Regions from separate parts of the Homo sapiens genome. Here regions 2, 3, 4, 5 and 6 are each reported to be linked to region 1. The links are microRNA targets in miRTarBase. Many come from high-throughput screens and were not tested one by one. Region 1 holds a microRNA gene; each other region holds the end of a gene's coding sequence.

Evidence for each region. The annotated mature microRNA hsa-miR-1913 reads UCUGCCCCCUCCGCUGCUGCCA and lies in region 1 at 2,379-2,400, opposite strand. An mRNA with a match to its seed (bases 2 to 7 or 8) in the 3' UTR can be bound and repressed. Matches are read on the target gene's strand: a 7mer-m8 pairs with bases 2 to 8, a 7mer-A1 pairs with bases 2 to 7 and ends in A, and an 8mer does both.
Region 2: the mRNA of SAPCD2 is a reported target of hsa-miR-1913. Seed matches in the 3' UTR shown: 7mer-m8 at 2,442-2,448 and 8mer at 1,238-1,245.
Region 3: the mRNA of VDAC2 is a reported target of hsa-miR-1913. The part of its 3' UTR that is shown has no 7-base or 8-base seed match.
Region 4: miRTarBase lists G3BP2 as a target of hsa-miR-1913. Seed matches in the 3' UTR shown: 7mer-m8 at 1,778-1,784.
Region 5: miRTarBase lists SETD1A as a target of hsa-miR-1913. Seed matches in the 3' UTR shown: 7mer-m8 at 1,394-1,400 and 7mer-m8 at 1,781-1,787.
Region 6: miRTarBase lists CCNQ as a target of hsa-miR-1913. The part of its 3' UTR that is shown has no 7-base or 8-base seed match.

The regions. Positions count from the first base shown.
Region 1 is chr6:166,506,986-166,510,984 of GRCh38, forward strand. MIR1913 (microRNA 1913) reads right to left here and starts at 2,448; the gene lies at 2,369-2,448. It overlaps RPS6KA2 (ribosomal protein S6 kinase A2), which reads right to left. Exons shown (of 21, transcript NM_021135.6): 4 at 3,292-3,372; 5 at 1,218-1,297. RefSeq lists enhancers at 1-91, 92-1,031.
Region 2 is chr9:137,061,275-137,065,273 of GRCh38, forward strand. SAPCD2 (suppressor APC domain containing 2) reads right to left here. Exons shown (of 6, transcript NM_178448.4): 4 at 3,804-3,911; 5 at 3,589-3,705; 6 at 853-3,513. The coding sequence ends at 3,385. Among named protein-coding and RNA genes, the nearest start is that of SAPCD2, 7.3 kb to the right of the region's middle. RefSeq lists an enhancer at 2,535-3,312.
Region 3 is chr10:75,230,461-75,233,460 of GRCh38, forward strand. VDAC2 (voltage dependent anion channel 2) reads left to right here. Exons shown (of 10, transcript NM_001391963.1): 10 at 438-988. The coding sequence ends at 529. Among named protein-coding and RNA genes, the nearest start is that of COMTD1, 4.0 kb to the right of the region's middle.
Region 4 is chr4:75,642,279-75,646,277 of GRCh38, forward strand. G3BP2 (G3BP stress granule assembly factor 2) reads right to left here. Exons shown (of 12, transcript NM_203505.3): 12 at 508-3,424. The coding sequence ends at 3,152. Among named protein-coding and RNA genes, the nearest start is that of CDKL2, 14 kb to the left of the region's middle.
Region 5 is chr16:30,982,634-30,986,632 of GRCh38, forward strand. It overlaps SETD1A (SET domain containing 1A, histone lysine methyltransferase), which reads left to right. Exons shown (of 19, transcript NM_014712.3): 18 at 1,002-1,139; 19 at 1,217-2,031. The coding sequence ends at 1,390. HSD3B7 (hydroxy-delta-5-steroid dehydrogenase, 3 beta- and steroid delta-isomerase 7) reads left to right here and starts at 2,574. Exons shown (of 7, transcript NM_025193.4): 1 at 2,574-2,664; 2 at 3,020-3,191; 3 at 3,416-3,571; 4 at 3,790-3,898; 5 at 3,972-3,999. The coding sequence starts at 3,026. RefSeq lists an enhancer at 2,043-2,555.
Region 6 is chrX:153,585,116-153,589,114 of GRCh38, reverse strand. CCNQ (cyclin Q) reads left to right here. Exons shown (of 5, transcript NM_152274.5): 5 at 661-1,190. The coding sequence ends at 750. Among named protein-coding and RNA genes, the nearest start is that of CCNQ, 12 kb to the left of the region's middle.

The sequences.
Region 1 (3,999 bases):
AGTGAAGTTGCATCCTGGAGGGTTCCTACCTAAGGCACTGGAGGTCAAGGAGAAGCCCTGGGGTGTGCAGTAGCGGCTGTGAGACAAAGGTGGCGTGCGAAGACCACACCCGATGCTCCCGAACAGCCCCAATGTTCAGCCGGCTTAGCAGTACCTCCCTCTTCCCTCCCTCTTCCCAGGATGGAAAGTGAGACCCTGTGAGAGTCTTTCCCAGCCGCTCCTACCCACCGACCTGCGCCTTCCATCTGCGCTAGCTGGGAGGTCAACAGCGTGACTTATGGTCCCAGAGCTGCAGGGGCGCTGCCAGGGCCACCTGGGACGATTGCTAGGGCCACTTGTGCAGCTTCCTTAGAACCAGGCAGCAATGCACACAGCACACCCAACACACACACACACACACACACCCACCCCACATCACACATAGCACACACCACACATACCACATACAGCACACACACACAACTCATACATACACACACCCTACATAGGCACACAGGATGTCAAACACACAGACACCCCACACCACACAAAGCACATACCACACATACCACATATAGCACACACACACCCACACACAAACACACCCCACACATACACACACCCTGCATATGCACACATGCACAAAGCACACCACACACCCCACACATAGCACACACCACGCACACCAACCCCACACATGCACACAGCATGCCAAACACACCCCCACATATACACATAGCACACACACCATCACACACAGCACACATCACATACACCACAAATCACACGCCTGACATATACACACAGCACACATCACACACATACCACACACTTATCACATGACACATGCACACCCCACATGCACACACACTCACATTCCCACACACCATGCACACACAACCCCAAACACCACGCACACCCCCCCACACACGCACTCAAACACATACACACCCCACACATCACGCACATGCACTCACACAGCCCCCATGCAAACCCCACACATGCACATGCAGTCTCGCAACCCCCCACCACACATCATGCACACTTGCACACACTCACACATGTACACCTCTCCCACACACGCACTCTTGCACACACTCACACATGCACACACCCCCACACACACACACGCACTCTCGCACGTGCTCACGTCCTCTCAATGCTCTCCACCCCTCCTCCCCTCGAGTCCCAGACAGAAGCTCCTGCCCGCCCTCCTGTGTGATGTGGCGGCTGCTCACCTCTTTGGAGAGCCGGGTGAAGAGGTCCCCTCCCCGCAGGAAGTCCAGGATCAGGTAGAGCTTTCCTTCCGTCTGAAAGGCTGTGGGGGACAGAGACCCGCATTTTGACAGCTTGTCGAATGTCCTGTGGCAACATCGCTCTCTGGCTTCTCCCTGCTCACGGTGCTGCTTACTCCGGGAGGCTGAGTCACTTGAGAAACGGCAGGACCCCGGCTGGTGACCAGCTCAGAGGGGCAGCACCCGGCAGAGGGGGTCTGACACTGTGAGCGCTGCCCCTCTCTCACTGTCGTTAGGGGGCCTTGAGATTTCTTTCATCTTTCTTTCCTCTCCCCTCCCTCCCTTTTTTAATCACAAAGGAATTGAAAGATACACGGGGAGAAAGATGTGAATATTTAAGCTGGTATCGTTGCTGGCTTTTGTCGTAATGCATTAGTGAGCAGCCTGAAGATGGCTCTGGTGGGTTTGGAGGACATGTCCTTTCCGTCCTATGGAAGTGCCTTCTTCTTACAGAACTCCACTCTGGTACCAGGGAGCCCCCCGCTTGCCTTCCTCTCTTGAGGCAGTTCTGGTGATAGGTCAGCCCAGTTATTTGAACATCAACAATGGGGCTCACGTCCTAGGTCTGGTCACTGTGAGCTATAACTGCAGACTTTCTGTTTCAGGCCACAGGCAGGCTACACAGCTCCTGCCCACACTCAGCAAGGGCCTGCCTCTGTTGAGCGGGCGCATGAGCACGGGAGGGTCTAGAGAAGCCCGTCACCATCGCTGCTGTGACGATGGTTGCTGCAGTGGCACTGGTGAGGCACCGCGTGGCATCTTTTTTATCTACAAAGGAAGTGTGGCTGGAAGGGATCCCAATATCCCTGCATACTAGAAAACGTTTTATTTTCTAAAAGTAAATGCTAGAAGCATCATAAATGTGGGGGTTTTAGAAACATAGCCCCCAGCTAGAAAGCCCTCTGCCAGGACTGTGTAAACTGAGTGTGCATTAAATGCTCCATCCTGGGCTTGGCAGGCAGGTGGAGGTGCTGGGTCACCACTGAGGTGATGTGGAGGTCTGTTTAAAGCTCTTTGTAGGACACCCAGTTCTCAATTTCTTCAGAAAAGCACCCTAGCAAGTAATGTAAATGACACGTGGGATGGGACTTGACACCAGCCACTTGGCAGCAGCGGAGGGGGCAGAGTTTTGGAAAGCCAGCCTCTGCAGCCTCCTCTGCCGGGAGGTAGAGGTTTGCAACTGCGCTGCCCACGGCCGAGAAGGAACAGCAGGGTGTGCCCAGCTTCTGCAGGCCTCCTTCATCCTGTCCTCAGATTCACGCAAATCTCACTAACACCTCCCCGACACACCACCTTGCCCTTTGCAACCAAGAACAAACTATTAGTTTTGTTGCTGTTCCCTTCTGTACTTTGCTCATCTGGATTATTAGGTGGGAAAGTTTAATGTAATAAGCCATGAATCTGCAGCCACCATCTCATCACATCTTTTTTAAATTTGAAGATTTCACTTACTGCTTCTCTGTTGGGATAAAAAGGCAGACAGCAAATGAAGAGAAGTTGTGTGGCAAAGCAGCTATGTGGCCTTTGGTTAATTATTTGAGCCTCAGAACATGAAAATAATAAGCTACCTTGAATAGAAGTTTTGAGGGTTCAACGAACTACTATCTTTAAACATGATATTCATTTGAAATGAGGTGTTACCATTTCTGGTTTAAAGAAATTATTGGGTCATAGAGTATTTTATTCTAAAACAACACAAAAATAAGTCATAGATTCACCCCAATCTAGGTTAAGATCTTCTAAATTATCAATGGTATGGTAATAATTTAATAATGGATACCCCATCTAAAATTAGATCTTTGAGATGAAAACAGGGCTTCTTGCTCTTTCAAAGAAAATAAATACAGAAGAGATTAAGTGATCAGGATAGAAGGCACCTTCCTCCCCAGGCAGGGCAGGACTCTATGGTATAGGAAAGATTTTCTTCTTTCTGATCTGTTATTTCTTTTTCAATTTTCTTTGATCTGGAGAAGGTTGCCCTGGGTCCTCTTTAAAGTGTCATTTTGACTCTACTTACCATAATGAAGCTTCACAATGAAGGGGTGATTCACTTCTGCCAAGATGTCTCTCTCCATCTTCGATCTCACTCGGTCCCGAACTGCAAAGTAAAAAGATAAAGGCTTTCATGAGGCAGGAAATAAGAGTTCTGAGGAACACTGAACATGAAATACTAGATATAATTCCCGCCAACTTTTCATTAAAAAATTTCAAACATATACAAAACTTGAAAAAGTTGTACAATAATCCTAGATTTAACAACTGCTTACGTTTTAATACATTTGCTTTCTCTCTCTCATATATATATATATATATATATATATATATATATATATATATATATATATATATATGCATCTCTAGCTCTCCAAAAAATTGTAGGCAGCACGACATGTTACTCTGAGGTGCATGTGCAGGTGTCTCCTAAGAATAAAGACAGTCTCTTAGCATAACTTTAACACCTACTGTGCCACATAGGAAAGCCAACAATCACTCCATGAAACATCTAACATCCAATCTATATTCAGTCCTCCCCTCCACGTCGTTTTCCCGACCTAGGATCCAGTTCAATTATATTGGTTGTTAAATGTCTTTGTTTTGCTCCTAGAAGACAATGGTCCCATACCTATTTCCCTCGCCCTGTATTTTTTCGTGGACTTTTTGGGAAGTCCAGGTCAGTTTTCGTCTGTAGAATGTTCCACATTCTGGGTTCGTCTGATGGTTGCTC
Region 2 (3,999 bases), not on the chromosome of region 1:
CCCAGCTACTCAGGAGGCTGAGGCAGGAGAATGGCGTGAACCCAGGAGGTGGAGCTTGCAGTGAGCCAAGATCGCGCCACTGCACTGCAGCCTGGGCGACAGAGCGAGACTCCATCTCAAAAAAAAAAAAAAATTCCAAAAGTCTGGGCTTTCTCGAATTCTCTCTTTTCTTTCTTTTATTTATTTTGAGACAGGGTCTTGCTCTGTCACTCAGGCTGGAGTGCAGTGGCACAATCATAGCTCATGGTAACCTCAAACTCCTGGGCTCAAGTGATCCTCCCACCTCAGCAGCCCCAGTAACTGGGAACACAGGCATGAGCCACCACATCTGGCTAATTTTTGTATTTTTGGTAGAGTCAGGGTTTTGCCGTATTGCCCAGGCTGACCTCAAACTCCTGGGCTGAAGCAACCCTCCCGCCTCTGCCTCACAAAAGGCTGGGATTACTGGTGTGAGCCACTGCACCCGACCGATACATGTTTATTTTATTAATATTATTTTTTTGAGACGGAGTCTCATTCTGTAGCCCAGGCTGGAGTGCAGTGGTGCCATCTCAGCTCACTGCAATCTCTGCCTCCTGGGTTCAAGCAATTCTCCTGCCTCAGCCTCCCGAGTAGCTGGGACTACAGGCGCCCGACACCACGCCTGGCTAATTTTTGTATTTTTAGTAGAGACGGGGTTTTACCATGTTGGCCAGGCTGGTCTCAAACTCCTGGCCTCGGGTGATCCACCCACCTCGGCCTCCCAAAGTGCTGGGACCACAAGCATGAGCCACTGCGCCCGGCCTAGTCTTCTTTATAGCATTAAGAGATCATGCTTTTCATGGAGTAAGGAACTATAAATACCACTCCTTGTTCATGTTTCCAGAAATCTCTTTTATTTCTTTAGATATATAAAACACTGTTACTTTATATTCTCTCTGATAATTCTAGTATCTGGGTCTAGAGTCAATCTGTTGCTTCTGCTGGGTCTCATAGTGTATTGTTTCCTTGTGGTGTTTATGAATTTTTAAACCTGGATCTCTCATTTTCTTTCTTTCTTTTTTTTTTTTGTAGAGATGGGGTCTCTCACTGCGTTGCCCAGGCTGCTCTGGAACTCCTGGCCTCAAGTGCTGGGATTCCAGGCGTGAACCACCACGCCCGGCTGAGATGTTCCTTTTCCTTGGAACTTGATCAACACAAAATCCTGAGGCCTGGTGTGGGTGTGTTCCTCTGGGGCAGATTCTCAACTGGGGACACTTCTGCCCCCAAGGACACATTTCAACATCCTGAGACATTTCCGGGTGTCATCACAGTGTGCACGCACGTGTATGTACCTGCACACGCTACTGGCACCTCGCGGATAGAGCCCAGGGACGCTGCTCACATCCTGCACGGAGACTGACCCGCCCAGCGTCCTAGGGCAGGCTCCAGGCAGGGTCTGCATGTGCCTCTGCCAGCCACCTAGACCCTGCCAGCCGGGGCCTTTAAATTCTCCCCTCGTGGTCTCCAGGGCCACTCACTAGCCTGATTTCAAGCTGTAAACTGGGAGGACCTATTTCTTTTCACCTTGCACGGAACACCAAGGCTGAAAGGCAGTTTTTCCGGAGGTGCCAGCCTGTCTCACATTTCCGCTTCAGCTGCGGGGTCCAGCTCTATGTGGGCGGTCTCCTGATGAAGTCACCCCGGGACAGACACTGTTCTGTCTCCTGCTTCCAGTCCAGTAAAGATGCCAGGATCCCCCAGGGCATGGCAGGCACCCTCAAAGGCAGACGTGGGGAGGCCCTGGTGGGCAGACCCCAGCCTGCTGACGGGGGGCTTCTCCCTGGCTGCCACTGGCCCACCCACTGCGCTGCAGTCCACCTGGTGCTGGGGCTGTGGGGCACAGGCCCTCAGGACCTGCACCCTTTCCTGCCCAGGAGGTCCAGGCCTGACATCCTTATGTCCCCTGGAAAGCCCACTCCCATCTTCAGGGTAGGAGGGCAGCTGCATGCTGGGCTGACTTGGGCCTGTCCTGGGACACCCCTGCAGACCAGGTGCAGCAGGGAATGTGGCTCTGTGGGGTTGCTGTGGGCAGGTTAGCATGGAGCTGGGCTCCGGAAGGGAGTTGCCACGCTGCCTGCCAGGGCCCCTCCTCTGAGACAGGTGCCTTGTGGGACAGTGTACCAAAGTGCCCTGGACACGAGGGGGCCCTGCGCCCCCCACGCACTGACCCCGCATCGGAGGCCCTGCGCCCCACACACACTGACCCCGCATCGGCATCGGGGGCCCTGCGCCCCCCACGCACTGACCCCGCATCGGGGGCCCTGGGCTGCAGAACCCATCGATGCTGTTGCCGTGCCCCTGGTTCTGGTGACACTGGGACCCTCCAGGTTGGGCTGAGCAGGGCCCCCCCACCAGTGCGTACTCCAGCACCAGCGGGAGTGGGCCTGGGCAGGGGCTGAGGGAGTGACACCCAAGGGGACCTGCCCCAGCCTCCTCCTGTACCCTGGGGGTTCTCGTTTTCCTTGGCTGAGGGAGGTGGCCTCTCCCAGCTGAAACCTGGGGACAGGCTGGGCGTGAGAGCAAAGGGGGGTGAGCAGGACCCCAGGCCTTGGAAATCCTGAGTCGGGGGAACAGGCTTTGCCTATGACGTGCCTGGGAGCTGTCTGGGGGCCCTCCTGGGGAGCCAGGCTCACAGGATGTTGTGTGGGACTCAACGTGGGGCAACGTCCCGGCCAAGAGGGGGAAGGCCATCACCCCAGGGTCTGTGGGAGGCACATGCAGGCCAAGCTCTCGCCCACCCGGCGTGCCGATCCGCTGCAGCCAGGGTCCCTCAGCCTTGGCCAGAACCTGAAGTCCGACCGCTATCCCTGGGGCTCCCCAGCCAGGCAGGCACCCCCCGCTTACAGGCCGTCCCCACCCCCTCCATCTACTTCCGTCCGTCCGAGCTACAGCCACCTCGTCCTGGTGCCCTGGTTGAGCGGGAAGCTGCCCTTGGACCCGCGTCGGAGCCGCCCCGCGCCCTCTGCTGCCCGTTGTTGGAAGTGCAGCCTGGCGTGGGCAGTGCCTTTCCCTGAAGATGGGACCCAGGGCGGCACCGCTGGAAACGGGGGGACGCTAACTCATGGAGGGGTACCCCACTGTCCACTGACAGCGGCAGTAGTAGCTGCGGACTATGCGGACTCAAGAGAGCCCCAGCCCATGTCAGCACCAGGAGCCAAAACGGAGTCAAGCGCTCGGTGCGGGGACCAGCCGGGGGCAGGCCTGGGGAGCCCATCTGGCAAGGGCGGCAGGAAGGCGCCCACTCCGGGACTGTGCCTGGGCCTGCCGGGGGTCTCCAGCCAGAGAGGGTGGGTGCGATGGGGCGCCCACCCTCGAAGGGCTGAGTGCCAGGCTGGCCCTGGGGGCCCACGCGGCCCACAAGGACTAGATGAAGGTGGAATCCAGAGGTCCCCCGTCCTGCTGGCTCAGGGCGCGGGCCTCAAACAGCTGCTTAATGAGCGCCGACTTCTCCTGCTCCAGCTGCGTGATGCGCTCACTCTTCTCGGTCACCTCCTGGGCAGGTGCACAGTTGGTCAAGGCCTGCGGGGCCTCACCCCCACCCCTGCACCCCTCCCGCGCCTGCCCTACCTGGGTGAGGAGTCGGTTCTGCTCCTTCAGCATGAGGATGGTCTGCTGCTGCCAGACCGGGGGTGAGGTGGACGTCAGGGCAGGGCAGGGGGGCCCGGAGGAGGACGGGGGCAGGGCCTGCGGGAGGGCAGGATTAGGCAGGCCTGGACGAGGGCGGGGAAGCACTAAACTGGCCTGGGCCCCAGCGTGGGTGTGGGGGTTTGGGGTACACTCACCCGGCTGGCACAGGCTGCAGCCAGCAGCTCCCCCAGGCACCGGGCCACCTCTTGTACCTTGGGCAGTAGCCGCCCCAGTGGGCGGGGGCTCCCTGCAGCCCCAAAGTCCTGGGAAGAAAGCAGAGGACAAGCGGTCAGAGAGGAGGTCCAGCCGGGGCCAGCAAGGTGCCTTGATAGGGGTTCCCACAGGTGGCTC
Region 3 (3,000 bases), not on the chromosome of region 1:
TTTCTTTATAAGCACAATACCATTGTCGCATCTAAGAAAACTAACATTAATGTAATACCAAATACATATTCAGATTTACCCCCGTTCCCAAATGTGTCTTTATTGTAGGTTTTCCTTTCTAGGATCGAATTATGATTATGTCTTTAGTCTCTTTTCATCGGGATAGTATACTCAACATTATAGTATATTCTAGAACACTTTGAAGTTGTTATTAAAACATTTCTCTGTGACTTGGTGCCTTAGCTAGAATGGTAACCCAGTTCTTCTGGTGTCTCAGATACTTCCAAGCGCCCTCTGGTGGCCAGCACTAGTAGGTCAGCTGACAGGCTGAGGAAGTGACAGGCAGGCTCTGGGGATGACTGTGAAAGAAGGCCCAGACTGAGTGACGTGCCAGGTACATCACGGTTTTTTGTTTTTGTGTTTTTTTGTCTTAATAGGTGTGAAGCTTACACTCTCTGCTCTGGTAGATGGGAAGAGCATTAATGCTGGAGGCCACAAGGTTGGGCTCGCCCTGGAGTTGGAGGCTTAATCCAGCTGAAAGAAACCTTTGGGAATGGATATCAGAAGATTTGGCCTTAATATATTTCCATTGTGACCAGCAGCAGGCTTTTTTCCCCCAAGAAGATGATCAAAACAAAGGATGATCTCAACAAGAGCTGTATTTTAAGTATTTAGACAGTTCTTTGTTAGCTGGTTTCTAGTTGGTTATCTAGTTACCAATGCTGCAGTCCTGCAGTCACCTATACATTATTTAAATGTATTTAACTGTTAAATGCGCTACCCACCAATAATGAAATAGACCTTTATGAAAACTGTGCAATTGTGTGCATGTTTGTTTTTATGTTCCTTTAGAAAACATTGACTGTTACCATTGAATGAGATGGATCAGTGGATATTAAGATGAGGTTACAAATTTTGTTAAGTTCAGCCATTATTACTTTTGGTATCCCAGAACATGACAAATTATGAATAAAACAAGTATACATAATTAATGGCTCCAAGTATTTGCGGAGTTCCACGTTTGCCAGCTAGGATCAAATCCCCGTGGTAGCTAGCCAATACTTGATTTTTCCAGTGAGTATTTTGCTCTGTACCTAAATCTGTGCCACAGAATCTTCTGTGTCCCTAGATTCCACGAGCTTTTTAAGACTACAATAAGAGGATACATGCTTTTACACTTTTACATGCACAGTTTGTAAGTCTGTGCAGAATTGCCCTGCATCATTGAAAGGAAAAAGAGAAGGTGCTGAAAAGTTACACAAACACACCATACCCCTGTGAGCTACTGCTAGGAACATAAAGTAGGCCCTGGTTTGGTGAGATGGTGTTAAGCATACAGAAGAGGAGTAAGGTGTAGACAGTGAGGGTAACCTGAGGGACTGTGAGAGGTCATTACTCATTTCCTTCTAGGCAGACACACTGAAAGGTGGGTATAGGTAGGAGACCAGAGACAACCCCTTTAGGCTGCGTGGCATTGGCCTTCATCTGGGCATGAATGAGACATTAATAGGTGGTTCTGGCTGGAAAAGTAGGTAAGAGTACGTTTTCTGATGGGAGAAGATAATTGGATATGATTAAAGGTTGGAGAAGATTTGTTCAACAAATCTGTAATAGACCTGAAGAATGGTAGAACCTGAGTGATAAGAAATGGGTAAGAAAATGGAAGGACTTATCACCCAAGAAATGATACATGCTACAAACTTCCAGGTTGAGAAGAAGCTGGTGAGAGACCAGAGCTCAAGCAAGCTCTCCACACAGGAGGGTTGGGGGCATGAAGACCCCTCTGGTCCCACTATTCCTAGGGGACTGGCTTGAATGGCCCATGTGAATCATGGTTCTCTGGAAGGCCCTCTCCAGACAGACATGACTTAAGTGACAGAGGGTTAGAATTTGAGCCAGCTTGAGTCAGGTAAGAGGAGAAACATGAAAAGATGTCCATGCAGGCTAGGCCTGAAAGCAACTCCAGCAGTGTGAAGTAGACCCGCAGGCAACTAACCACTGCTGGTGGTCCTTCAAAGAGAAAAACCCTAGTCATGGGGACTGCTGCCCCTTAGCTAATGGGTGGCCCTTTATTGGGCAGTGGCTACAGTAATTTGGACTGAGGTGTGGCACGAGTGAGTTAACTGTTTTGTCAAGGATTTCCTTAGAGTAAATTGAACCTATTCACCCACATGCATCCTAATATGCTTTTATGAGTTAGAAAAGGGTAGGTTTCCAGCCGTGGTCTTGCGTAGTGTCCAAAATGCAAAGTTTGTCCCAGGAGCTGTGAGCTCGTGTGGCTTTTTTTTTTTTTTTTTTTTGAGACGGAGTCTCACTTCGTTGCTCAGGCTGGAGTGCAGTGGTGCGGTCTCGGCTCACTGCAACCTCCGTCTCCCGGGTTCAAGCAATTCTGCCTCAGCCTCCCGAGTAGCTGGGATTACAAGCGTGTATCACCACACCTGTCTAATTTCTGTATTTTTAGTAGCGACCGGATTTCACCATGTTGACCAGGCTGGTCTCGAACTCCTGACCTCAAATGATCCACCTGCCTCAGCCTCCCAAAGTGCTGGGATTACAGGCGTGAGCCACTGTGCCCAGCCTCATGTGGCTCTTTTAGCTCTGCTTCCATCAGTCTCCAGGGACACTTCCCACCACCGAGGCTTACCAGGTAGTGGCAAAAGCTGCTTGAATTCCAGGCTAATGCCACTTATGCCTGAGGCAGTGTCAGTGGAAAGAATTTGACCATCTGCCAGTGGAGATAAGATCTGTGAGGTTGGGGAGATTTAAATAAGCAGAGCACCTGGGTCGAAGGTGCTCCATGAGGCCTGGTTCCTTCTCCACCTCCCCTCATAGGCAGATGGTTCAGGAAAGCCTGAAGTTCTCTTCATCCTCTAGGGAGTGTAGTAACAACTGCTGTACCTATAGGCTTGTCTGCTTCACGCCTCCCTGGCCAGTGATCCCCCTCACTTAAGAATTTCAAGGAGACGGCAGGATACTCAAGTCAACCCCACGGCAGGATAC
Region 4 (3,999 bases), not on the chromosome of region 1:
AAGGAAAAGGTTCAAGTTCTGAAATTACACATGCCTTAGGACCTCATTTTTCATTGAAAGCATGACTAAATATGGCTAATGGTTACATCAATATTTTTGGAGAGCTTGATAAATTAGTTCCAATTTCTGAACTTGAGTCATGTCCATTAACTTCAGGTAACCTCAATCTTCTCATCCCTTCCCTTCTCCTTTCTTGTGAGATGCAAGGCAGAAAATACTTTAGAAAATCCAAGGTTGTAATCTGCTTTAGATCATTCTCATCATTCTTACTACTTATTATTCTAACATTCAACCTGTATACCAGCAGTCTAACTGGACGGAATAGATCTCTTACAATGGTCAAGTGTTACTTAAATGTTTTACTTTTTTTATACGTATCAAATTTCACAAATAAATTGTTTTAAAACCCAACTGCTTATTATTCCCACTTAGTTTGTATGAAATGCAACTGGGAGAAAACATTTGGGAACAATAAAAACTATAGATTAAATTAGGGACATAGATAAATGCTGCAGACATCAGTAGTTTATTGTTTGTTTAGTCCAAACACATTCAATATGGAAACTCAAAGAATACTTTCCACCTGAAACAATTAAACTAGATTCTACTAGCATATAATGCTTAACACATTACAGCAATAAAGATGGTAATCCATTGTCTTCTATACCTACTAAAGCCAAGATGGTAAAGCCAATTTGGTTGCAATAGTGTCATAAGGATAGAATATTACCATCAAAAAATAAAACAAAATCAGCAAATAACAGTAATGGTAGATGAATATTTTTACTCTGTTTCACTGAAAAGAGGACAAAATGTTAAAACTCCACAGTACTGCAGGTGAACAATCACCATGTAAACTTCTCCATATGATGTTTTAATGTTTTATTCATGGTATGTAAAGACTGAAGCTGAATGGCTCTTTGCTCTACTTTTCTATTATTACACTTAACATTTGTCATTACTTTTGGTGCCAGAACAGTTTTCATGGATGGCAGGGCAATATCCTGAATTGGAAATTATATATATATATATATATATGGAAACAGAAATACAAGAAAATATGCTTGGGGGAAAAAAAACATTGACAATAAAACAACTGCTTCTTTAAAAGTAGTATTAATAAAGGCTTCAAAACTCCAAAGTAATTTTCTGGTAAGAATTTCAAGTACTATATCAGAAAGTATAAAACTGTTTCAAACAGAAAAAAAAAAAATCCTTAAGCCCCCCAAAAATGGAAACTATGAAAATCTGTGTCCCCAAAATATATGCAATAGTGCAAGACTTTCCCTCAAACATGGAAGACCTCATTCAAAGGGGGAAAAAGGGACAGATTTTACTCATATTGCCCAGTACATGAAAAACAAAATACATGCATCATTTGCTAGTTTACTAAATAGCAAACAGTTGCATAATTCAGAACCAATTTGCTACTATGTCAAGTGCATATCTTGTCTGTTTTACAAAGATAGAATGGAGAAGTCTTCCATGCTAACGAGCAGCTTTAAGTGGTCACACTTATTTACCCCACTCCTGCCTGAAACATCAGAAACTGGTATGTACTGACTGCTCCAAGCATAAAATTGGATAAGCTTTGCCATACTTGTGGTTTACTGGAACTTGCTATAAAGACAGACAATAATCCAGCAGCTACAAACTTTGCTCACAGAATTGTTTAAAGATTCATGTAAAAATAAAAGATGTCGTCCCAGACTTAAATTCAGGAGCCACTCGGGTGCTGACATCAGTTCAAGAATTGTGCAAAATGAATGACAGTTCCCTGCCCCCCAAATAGAAAATGCAAACACTTAAAGAGCTGCTGTTCTTTTCTCCGAAAATTGCAGTATCCTCACTTCAGGCTTACTTGCCATTTATAGAATCTGACTGCTTTTAAAATGTCACTAAAAATGTACGTCAAGTTGACTGACTTTTCCAAGCCCTGAAGTGATATGTTTCAACGTCCACATTCAGGCTAAGAGAAAAGTCAACTAGAGGCTTACTCAAATAACTGACTTCCTCCTTCCCTCTCCCCACAAACACACAGGACTCCCTCCCTCCCACAGAGAACACAAAGTTGTTAACTGAAGAACAAGATAAATAATATGCTAGTCCATTTTACTGATTTTAAAGATACTGCAATTTTTATACATTTCGATGATTTTTCAACATTTTGCAGCTGTTTGGCTTTGCAGCACAGCAATTCATACACTATACTGTACAAAATTACCAGCAAGACTGGAATGATGTATTAATAGAAGGCACCATCATGCTTATTACATTACCAGAGAACAAAAATACAGTAAAGACAATTTTCACTGTACACAGCTTAAAGAAAGGAAAAAAGGGGAGGAGGAGTGTGTTGAGCAGCCAGCCATCCCTGTACTGAAGAGGGGCAGGTAGAAAAATCTTAGATATGGAGCTACTAAATCTGGTCTAATAGTCAAGACCATCGCATTTGAAGTTCTAATTTTTATTATTTAGTTCATAACTAAAATGATTTCCTTCTGGAATATACTTGTAGTCTTGTTAAGGTTTATGTGTACACACGCTGGTCACAGCAAGCAGATAAAATGCCCTCATCATTTCACAAACTATTTTCTACTGGAAAAGAAGATGAGATTTTTTCCCTGTTGCCTCCTGTTGCAGATGTCAATGTTAATGAGTTCAGAGTACCCATTAGTACATTTTGATGAGTGCATAACAAGTTTCTGTTGGTTTGTATTTTTGGGGGGAGCCAAGAAAAAAGGCAAGATTCTCCAATTGCACAAATTGCACTATTTGTGTTCCCAGCATTAACAGGCAGAAACAGTAACACTTAAACAAAATGTGCAGCAGAAGATTTTTTTTTTACTCAAAGGACCTGAATTCAGTGGGCATGTCCTTTTAAGTTCACTTTGTCGTAGATAGTTTAAGATATGGTCATTTCTCAGTCCTTAATTCTCCAAGTCTAGATTTATAAATTAACAATGTGAATCCTGTTGTGAAATTGGGGAAATAATGTCCACCTCAATTTAACTGATAACCAAAGATGCTTTTCACATCAAAGAAATGATCAAAAAGGCTGTGTCACATTCCAAAGCCAAAAAAAAAATTAACAAGAATGCAAACACGATGAATAATGTACCACTGCCAAGACTTTGCCAACAGTGGAGCTTCAGCGACGCTGTCCTGTGAAGCGGCCCTCCATTTGCCCGGTTCCTCTTCCAGAGCCAAGTTTCTGTGCCATGCCACCCCTTGGAGGAGGTCCTCTTCCATCACGATCACGCATCATTCCACCACCCACAATTCCACGTGGACCACCGGGACCTCGATCATTGCGCCTAATATCCCTGCGATCATCACCACCACCTCTGGTTTCTCGCTCTCTTGCAGCTCTTGTTTTTTTCTCTTCCACATTTAAACGTACTTCCCCTCGAAACATAATCGGCTTTATAAAAGAGAAGAAAAATATTTACATGGGCAGGTTAGACAGCAATAGAAATGATTACTCTGAACAGGTCAGTCAGATAAGCATAAGGAATAAAACACTTTTATCAGCCCCCCACCCCCCAGAGATAGGGTCTCAGCTGTCACCCAGGCTGGTGACAGCCAGTGGCACAAGCATGGCTCACTGCAGCCTTGACATCCTGGGCTCAAGTGATACTCCCACCTCAGCCTCCTGAGTAGCTGGGATTATAGGTGTCTACCACCATGGCCGGCTATTTTTCTTTTTTTGTAGAGACAATGTCTCACTGTTGCCCAGGCTGGTCTTGAACTCTCCTGGGCTCAAGCAATCCTTCTGCCTTAACTTCCCAAAGTGCTGGGATTACAAGTGTGAGCCACTATACCCAGCCAAAATTCTTAACATGCAATCTTGCAATCTTTCCCACCTTCTTCAGCAAAGCAAGTAACAAAATTTAAAATGATCTGCAAACTAACAAATCTTTATTCTTTGCATAAATACCATTTAATAACTATTTTTAGCTTTATTATTAAAAGATTTTCTATGGTTTTTAAATACCC
Region 5 (3,999 bases), not on the chromosome of region 1:
CCCGGAGCTTTCTTCAGGAGAGGGTCCTTCCGCAGGAGAGGGTCCTTCCGCAGGAGAGGGCCCCATGGCTAGTGAGCTCCATGTCTAGGCTGACACCAGTATCCAGGCAAAGGCAAGGGTGGCCCGACCCAAGCAGTGGCAGCAGAGGTGACAGAGAGGAGGCTTTGGGTGCAAGGTGGTTGGCTGGGCTCAGCAGTGAGAGGGTGAGGGGGACGGGAGGCCCTCTCTCGGTGCTGCTCTTAGCTGCTGGGAGTATGATGGGAGGGCCAGTGAGATGGGTGTGAGGAGGAAGAACAAATATATGGTCAAGATGAGCTCCAGTCTGGACATGTGGGGTTGCAATGCCCCAGGGACATCTAGGGGATGACGCCCAGCAGCTCCACTGAGGTGGCTTTTGGCTGGAAATGGAAGTTTGGGAGGAGTCCCCACCACATAGCTGGCGGCTGAGGCTCTGGAAGGGAGTGAGGTCACCCGAGGAGGGCGTGCAGAGGCTCCTCACTGTCTTCTGGGAAGTAAGGGTTGCTCCTCACACGGAGGTGCGGGGCCTGACATGGGCGGCCTGCCATTTGCATTAGCCGGTGGCAGCCAACAGGTGCCTGTTTTGGAGAGAGGTCCAGGGAGGAGAGATGAGCAGGGTGCCGTTGGTGACATGGCCAGTCATTTCAGGAGCTGCCCCAACCCCAGACTTGCCCCAGCAGTCCGGGACCCCACTGTGACCAGGCAGATGCTCGAAGGAGTCAGTGGCTCTCTTACCCAGTGCAGATTTCCCTGGAGTTCCCTGCGGGTGACTTAGAATGGCCACCAGAGGCTTAGGATGCTGCCCCAAAGAGGGAGGGCTCCTGGAAGCAGAGTCGAGAGAGTCAGTGCCGGGTTAGCGGGAGCTGGAGGCAGAGCTGCAGCTCCAGGCCTGGTGGGCGTGGACCTGGGGTGCTGGCTGGCAGGCGTGCTCAGGGGCAGGAAGTGGGGGACTCTTCCCTGACCATCGCATCTCACCCTGGCAGATGGTGGCCGACATGCGGGAGAAGCGCTACGTGCAGGAGGGCATTGGCAGCAGCTACCTGTTCCGGGTGGACCACGACACCATCATCGATGCCACCAAGTGTGGCAACCTGGCCAGATTCATCAACCACTGCTGCACGGTGCGCCAGGGGCCAGCCGGGGCAGGAGTTGGGGGTCGGTGGGGGTGGCCACGGCTCACACGCCCTTCCATCCGCAGCCTAACTGCTACGCCAAGGTCATCACCATCGAGTCCCAGAAGAAGATCGTGATCTACTCCAAGCAGCCCATTGGCGTGGACGAGGAGATCACCTACGACTACAAGTTCCCACTGGAAGACAACAAGATCCCGTGTCTGTGTGGCACAGAGAGCTGCCGGGGCTCCCTAAACTGAGGTGGGGCAGGATGGGTGCCCACACCCCTATTTATTCCCCCTGGTGCCCTGAGCTCCCAGCACCCCCCCAGCCTTAGTGGGCTCAGCAGGGCCCACATGCCCCCATCTCCAAGCGTGGGGTTGGGGGCCCCAAGCCCAGCGAGGGAGCCTCAGTCCCTGGAGGCAGCTTCTGCCTCTCCTGTCACCCCTGCCCACCACCCCCTGATTGTTTTTCTTTGCGGAGAAGAAGCTGTAAATGTTTTGTAGCAGCCAGCAGCTGTTTCCTGTGGAAACCTGGGGTGCCGGCCTGTACAGATTCTGTCCTGGGGGGCTACACAGTCCTCTTGCTTTGTGTTAATGGGGACTTCCCCTTACGCCCTGCGTGTACCCCTCCCCAGTTTAGGGGTCTCTGGGGCAGTGGCCATGTTCTCCCCCTGGGGGGGCTCTGCACCCCCAGTCCTGGGGACTCCGTGCCTGGAACCCTGCCTCATCTGTTCCTGCCAGACCCTGAGGGTCACCCTTCCACCCTGGTGTCACTCCCCGGCTCAGCCAGGCCAGGATGGCGGGGTGGGTCCCTTTTGCTGGGCTGGACTGTACATATGTTAATAGCGCAAACCCGACGCCACATTTTTATAATTGTGATTAAACTTTATTGTACAAAAGTGTTTGGTCGGTGTATTTGGGCAGGAGCGAGGGGTTGGGGGTAGAGGGCACGGAGGGTTGTGCAAGTTGAAGAGAGGGAAAAGTGGGTACCTGAAGTGTGGGGCAGGTAAAGGGGCCTTCAGGCAAGAGCCCAGACCTGCAGAGACAGTCCGAGACTGTCTCGGACCCCCTGACAGGCTGCAGCAGCCGCACCCGCACCAGGAATACCCCACCAGTGCCCGCCAGGGTGGTGCCAAGGTCAGGCCTCCCCTTCCTACAATCACAGCTGCAGCTGGACCTCCGGCCTCCTGGGAAGCCCAGCAGGAGGGAAGGCCTGAGGTCACACTGTGGGATGAGGTCACCGCTGGCTCCACCCACAGCCCCAGACCCCTTCAGCCCACTCTGCAAGTTCGAGCTTCATCCCCACCAAGTTCTCCGCTGGACCCAGATGCCAGTGGAGCACAGAGCGGCCGCCAGGGGGCGCCTTGGGGCAAGAGTGGTGGGGGTTGTGGCTGGGCGGGTCTCTGTTCCTGGAATGGGGCAGGAGGGAGAAGGAGGAGCCAGCGGAAGGACGGTGTGCGGGCCGGCCAGCCCTGGACGAAAGAAGAGGGCCCCTCCAGGCCAGTCTGGGCACCCTGGGATAGCGGCTGCAGGTAGGCAGAGGCGCTGCCAGTGCCCAGGTGGCCTTTCCCTCCATCCGGCCCTTCCCACCTTCCTATAACCTTCCCTCCACCTCCCTCAACTCCTGGCCTCCCCACCCTTTTACTGCCTTCAAATCTCTCTCCCTAAACCCTGACCCCTTCCTGCACCCCAAGCCCGCCCCTCTCTCCGTAACTCAGCCATCAGCAGGGGCAGACGGCAGGTGGCCTGGTTGCTGCAGCTCCCAGGATCAGCTCTGCCCTCCCCGCAAACGCCAGCCTCGTCACCGCTCCAGGGCACCTCCAGCAGTAACAGGTGGTTGCAGCAGGTGGCAGCCAGCCCCTGGATGAGCCAAGGTCTCTTCCCCAGCCAGGCATGGCCGACTCTGCACAGGCCCAGAAGCTGGTGTACCTGGTCACAGGGGGCTGTGGCTTCCTGGGAGAGCACGTGGTGCGAATGCTGCTGCAGCGGGAGCCCCGGCTCGGGGAGCTGCGGGTCTTTGACCAACACCTGGGTCCCTGGCTGGAGGAGCTGAAGACAGGTTCTTGTTGGGGGAGCTTGTGGTGGAGAGGGTGTGGACGCTTCCCCAACCCTTCCCAAGCTGGGATCCCCACCCCTGCAGTGGAACAGATGATGCTGGTTTCTGTCCACATGGATGGGTCGAGTGAGTCACATTGGGAACGTGACTCCAGGGTGGAAGATGAACCCAGCCTCTGGCCTCTGGCCCCAGCTCTGACATGGCCTGTGTCCTCCAACCCCGGCCAGGGCCTGTGAGGGTGACTGCCATCCAGGGGGACGTGACCCAGGCCCATGAGGTGGCAGCAGCTGTGGCCGGAGCCCATGTGGTCATCCACACGGCTGGGCTGGTAGACGTGTTTGGCAGGGCCAGTCCCAAGACCATCCATGAGGTCAACGTGCAGGGTGAGGAGCTCTGGACACTCCTGGCCATCTTGCCTGTTTGTTCCCCACTCTGTCTTTGGCCTTGACCTCCGGTGACTCCCCTGGGACAAGTTGTCCTATTGACAGCCCTGCCCCCGCCTCCCCTGACCTGTCATGGTTTTCCCTGGACCTGGGATGGGGAGGAGGAAGATGCAGAGAGGGAAGAAGCTGCAGCTTGGATACGCCTCCTCCTCTGCCAGGTACCCGGAACGTGATCGAGGCTTGTGTGCAGACCGGAACACGGTTCCTGGTCTACACCAGCAGCATGGAAGTTGTGGGGCCTAACACCAAAGGTCACCCCTTCTACAGGTGAGTGGCAGGCCCTCTTGTCCTCTAAGAGCCCATTTCCCTCAGCATTGAGTCTTCCTTCTCCTCCCACCAGGGGCAACGAAGACACCCCATACGAAGCA
Region 6 (3,999 bases), not on the chromosome of region 1:
CCAAGACGCTCACACGGGGCAGGATTTTCTAGGGGCCTAGAGGTTATCCTCCAGGAGCCAGGCAGAGGCCAGACCTGCCTTTGGAAGGTACAGGGTGTGGACCCCAGCCTGTGGCGTGGCCCTGGGCTGCAACCCTCCTGCCATGGGCCCCGAGGATGTCCTTCGCCGTCTTGCGAGTGCTCCTGCACGTGGCGGTCCGGACTGTGGAGTGGGTCCACATGCTCCCCAGGGGCTGGGTTAGGGTAGGCGTGGGGTCCGGGTACTTAGCCTGCCTGTGGCTGCACAGGGACTGCCACCCTCTCCTCTTGCCAGTGTCCGCAGAGACCCTGGACCTGAGGGAGTCCCGGGCAGGAGGCAGGAGCCTGTGCTCTGGACCCAGCTGTGTTACCAATTCCCTGTATGACGTTGGACAGGTCCCCTCCTCTCTGAGTCAGAAGATCACCAAGGCCTGTTCCATCTGGAATGTTCTCGGCCTTGTAAAGTGTTTGGCCTCAACGGGCTGGAATTAAACTGGCTTTGCAGGAGAGCTACTGTCTTCCTACATAGCCAAGTCCCTGTGCCCCTCCCCTGCCCATGAAATGTGATTCTCTGCTTAGTGACAGGTGCCTTGTTTAACATAGAGGGAGTCTAACTGGAACCTGTTTTCCTTCTTCTTTCTAGGTGTTTAATGACGACCTTACCAAGCCAATCATTGATAATATTGTGTCTGATCTCATTCAGATTTATACCATGGACACAGAGATCCCCTAAGGTCCTGGCCCAGGCCTGCCCAAAGAGAAGCCCAGGATGGTCGGCTGCCTGGGGACATTGTCACCACGTCGCCATGACGGCTGGTCCCCACAGGACCAGCTGGGAGGACTGGTTGTGCTGCTGGAGAAGGGCTGGAGAAGGCAATGGCATGCTGCCGCTTTGCCAGTCCCTAGAAGTCGCGGTGCAGGTGATGGTGGGAGCCGCGCCTCCAGCGGGCAGGCCGGGAGTGTACTGTGTGCAGCTGACCCAAGGCAGCCACATCTGCGTTTGTCCTTTGAGAGGACTTTGACTACAATACAGGCATGACATCAATGAAAGGAAAGTCATGAAATCGATGAGACTGAATCCCTACGGATTTCTTAAAAGCCAGATTTGTAGGGAGAATGAATGTGCAACGTGGCTGAAATCTATTTTGTGTAATAAAAGGTGATACAAGTCAATAGGGACCCTTGGCTTTGCTCTGCAGCGCATGCTGCACATGGGGGTGTGAGGGGCCCTCAGAGACTGGTTCCCTCAGAGTGCTCTCAGGTAGAGTGTGTCCCAGCCATCAGGCGGCAGGCCTGGGGTTAGGGAGGATCACTTGCATTCAGAAAAGTGAGTCCTGATCGAACGTAACTAAAAGTAATGCGTTTTTAAATGTCAAGGTAGCCAGTCTGGATGGGGAGGCTGGAGAAACTCAGAGCTGTGGCCCCCAGCACCCCTCTGACTCCTTGCTCAAAAGCCAGTGGGTAAGAAATAGACCAGTCCAGGAGGCGCTCTCTAGGTCCCCTTTCAGGCTAGACGTACGTTCAGCACGTGGCGTAGGGCCGGGGGACTGGTAGGTTTACACAGGAGGGTGGGCTCCGGCTCCTGCAGGTGTGGGGGCAGGGGTGATGCAGGTCAGGGCAGAGTCTTGCTTGACTTTACAGAGCGACTATGTTCAGTGTCTTCAGAATGAAGTATCTGAGCAGATGTCACAGGCTTCCCTGGTGGGCAGGCTTGCCCTGGCTGACCTGCCCTTCATTTCGTAGAACTCCCCTGTGGGTTTTGATGATTAACTTCTCCTAAATGTGGGCTCCTGCTTTACCTGTTGTAAGCCTTTTAAGACTAATCAGTCAAAGAACCACATTTATTGAGCAGCTACTGTGTGCCCAGTCCTTGCCTGCGCTCTGGCAACCAGGTGAAACTCCTTGCTTATGTGGAGGGAGAGATGGGAAACAGAATGAGAATGTGTAGCGTGGTAGTGAAAAGAGGAAGGAAGAGAAGGTGGCCAGGGCTCAGAAGAATTAATATGGTAAAAATGGCCCTCATGGCCAGGTGTGGTAGCTCACACCTGTAATCCCAGCACTTTGGGAGGCCGAAGTGGGTGGATCATCTGAGTTCAGGAGTTTGTAGACCAGCCTGGCCAACATGGCAAAACCCCGTCTTTACTAAAAATACAAAAATTAGCCGGACATGGTGGTGGATGCCTGTAATCTCAGCTACTTGGGAGGCTGAGGCAGGAGAATCGCTTGAACCTGGGAGGCGGAGGTTGCAGTGAGCCGAGATTGCGCCACCATACTCCAGCCTGGGCGACAGACGGAGACTCTTATCTTTTTTTTTTTTTTAAAAAAAGAAAATATTCACAAACTCTACGTCTGACAAGGGGTTAATATCCAGAATATATAAGGAATTTAGACAACAGAATAACAACCTAATTTAAAAATGGGCAATAGACCTAAACAGACATTTCTCCAAAGAAGACGTACAAGTCGCCAACAGGTATGTGAAAAAATTGCTCAACGTCAGGAATCAGGGAAATGCAAATCAAAACCACATCGAGGATATCACCTCACTTCAATTAGAATGGCTACTATCAAACAAAAGAAAACAAGCTTTGGTGAGGATGTGGAGAAAAGGGAACATTCACACACTACTGGTGGGATATACTATAGCCACTATGGAAAACAGTATGGATATTCCTCAAACATTTTAAAAATAGGCAGGGGATGGTGGCTCAGGCCTGTCATCCCAGCTCTTTGGGAAGCGGAAGTGGGAGGATCATTTGAGCCCAAGAGTTCAAGACCAGCTTGGGCAACATATGAAGACCTCTTGTCTATTAAAAAAAAAAAAATTAGGCCAGGCACTGTGGCTTATGCCTGTATTCCCAGCACTTTGGGAGGCCGAGGCAGGAGGATGGCTTGAGCTCAGCAGTTCGAGACAAGACAAGACAAAAGACAAGACACAGGAAAGACAAGACAAGACAAAAGACAAGACACAGGAAAGACAAGACAAGACACATTTTAGCATTCAAATACATTTTAACATTCCAAGAAACGAAGAGTGGGTTCTGGAGTTAGACCACTTGGCTGTGAAGGCTGGTTCTATCACCCGTGTATCTTGGGCTAATTCATCCACCCCTTTTTCTTTTCTTTTTTCTTTTCCCCTTCCTTCCTTCCCTCCCTCCCTCCCTTTCTTCTTTTCTCCTTCCCTCCCTCCCTCCCTCCCTCCCCACTTCTTTTCTCTTTTCTCTTTTCTTTTCTCTCTTTTGCAATCATGGCTCACCACAGCCTTGGCCTCCTGGGCTCATTCGATCCTCCCACCTCAGCCTTCTGAGTAGCTTGGACTACAGGTGTGCACCACCGTGCCTGGCTAATTTTTTATTTTTATGTTTGGTAGAGATGAAGCCTTGCTATGTTGCCCAGGCTGGTCTCAAACTCCTGGACTCAAGCGATCCTCTAACCTTGGCCTCCTAAAGTGCTGGGATTACAGGCGTGAGCCACCATGCCTGGCCCGGTATGTTAAAATGTAAAACCAATAAGGAACATAGTAGTTGCTTGAAATAACAGGCAATCATTGTGGTGGGGAAAATTAGTGCCCGCCAATTCTAGATAGGATCATGTGCTTCATGTTCATCTCTGGAAGTCCAGGGGACACTATAGATGTCACTGTAAGCACTTAAGAGCAAAGGTGTAAACATCTATTTTCTCATGTGAACTTCCAGAAAGAAAGGACTCTGAGGTGACAGAATTGCAAGCCAGAAACAGCCTCCGTGCCTATATTTCTTCTGGAACCTAACAGAGCCTCCCACGTGCATGGAACTGTGCTGTGGGTGAGAATAAAGCTGCTTGATTCAGGTATAAGAAAAAGGAGGAGAGACACAGACAGACACACGCACAGGGAGAGACAGACATGGGAGAAAAACCACACGACAACAGAGGCAGAGGTTGGAGTGAAGCATCTACAAGCCAAGGAATTCCGAGGACGGCTGGCAATGCCCAAAGCTAAGAG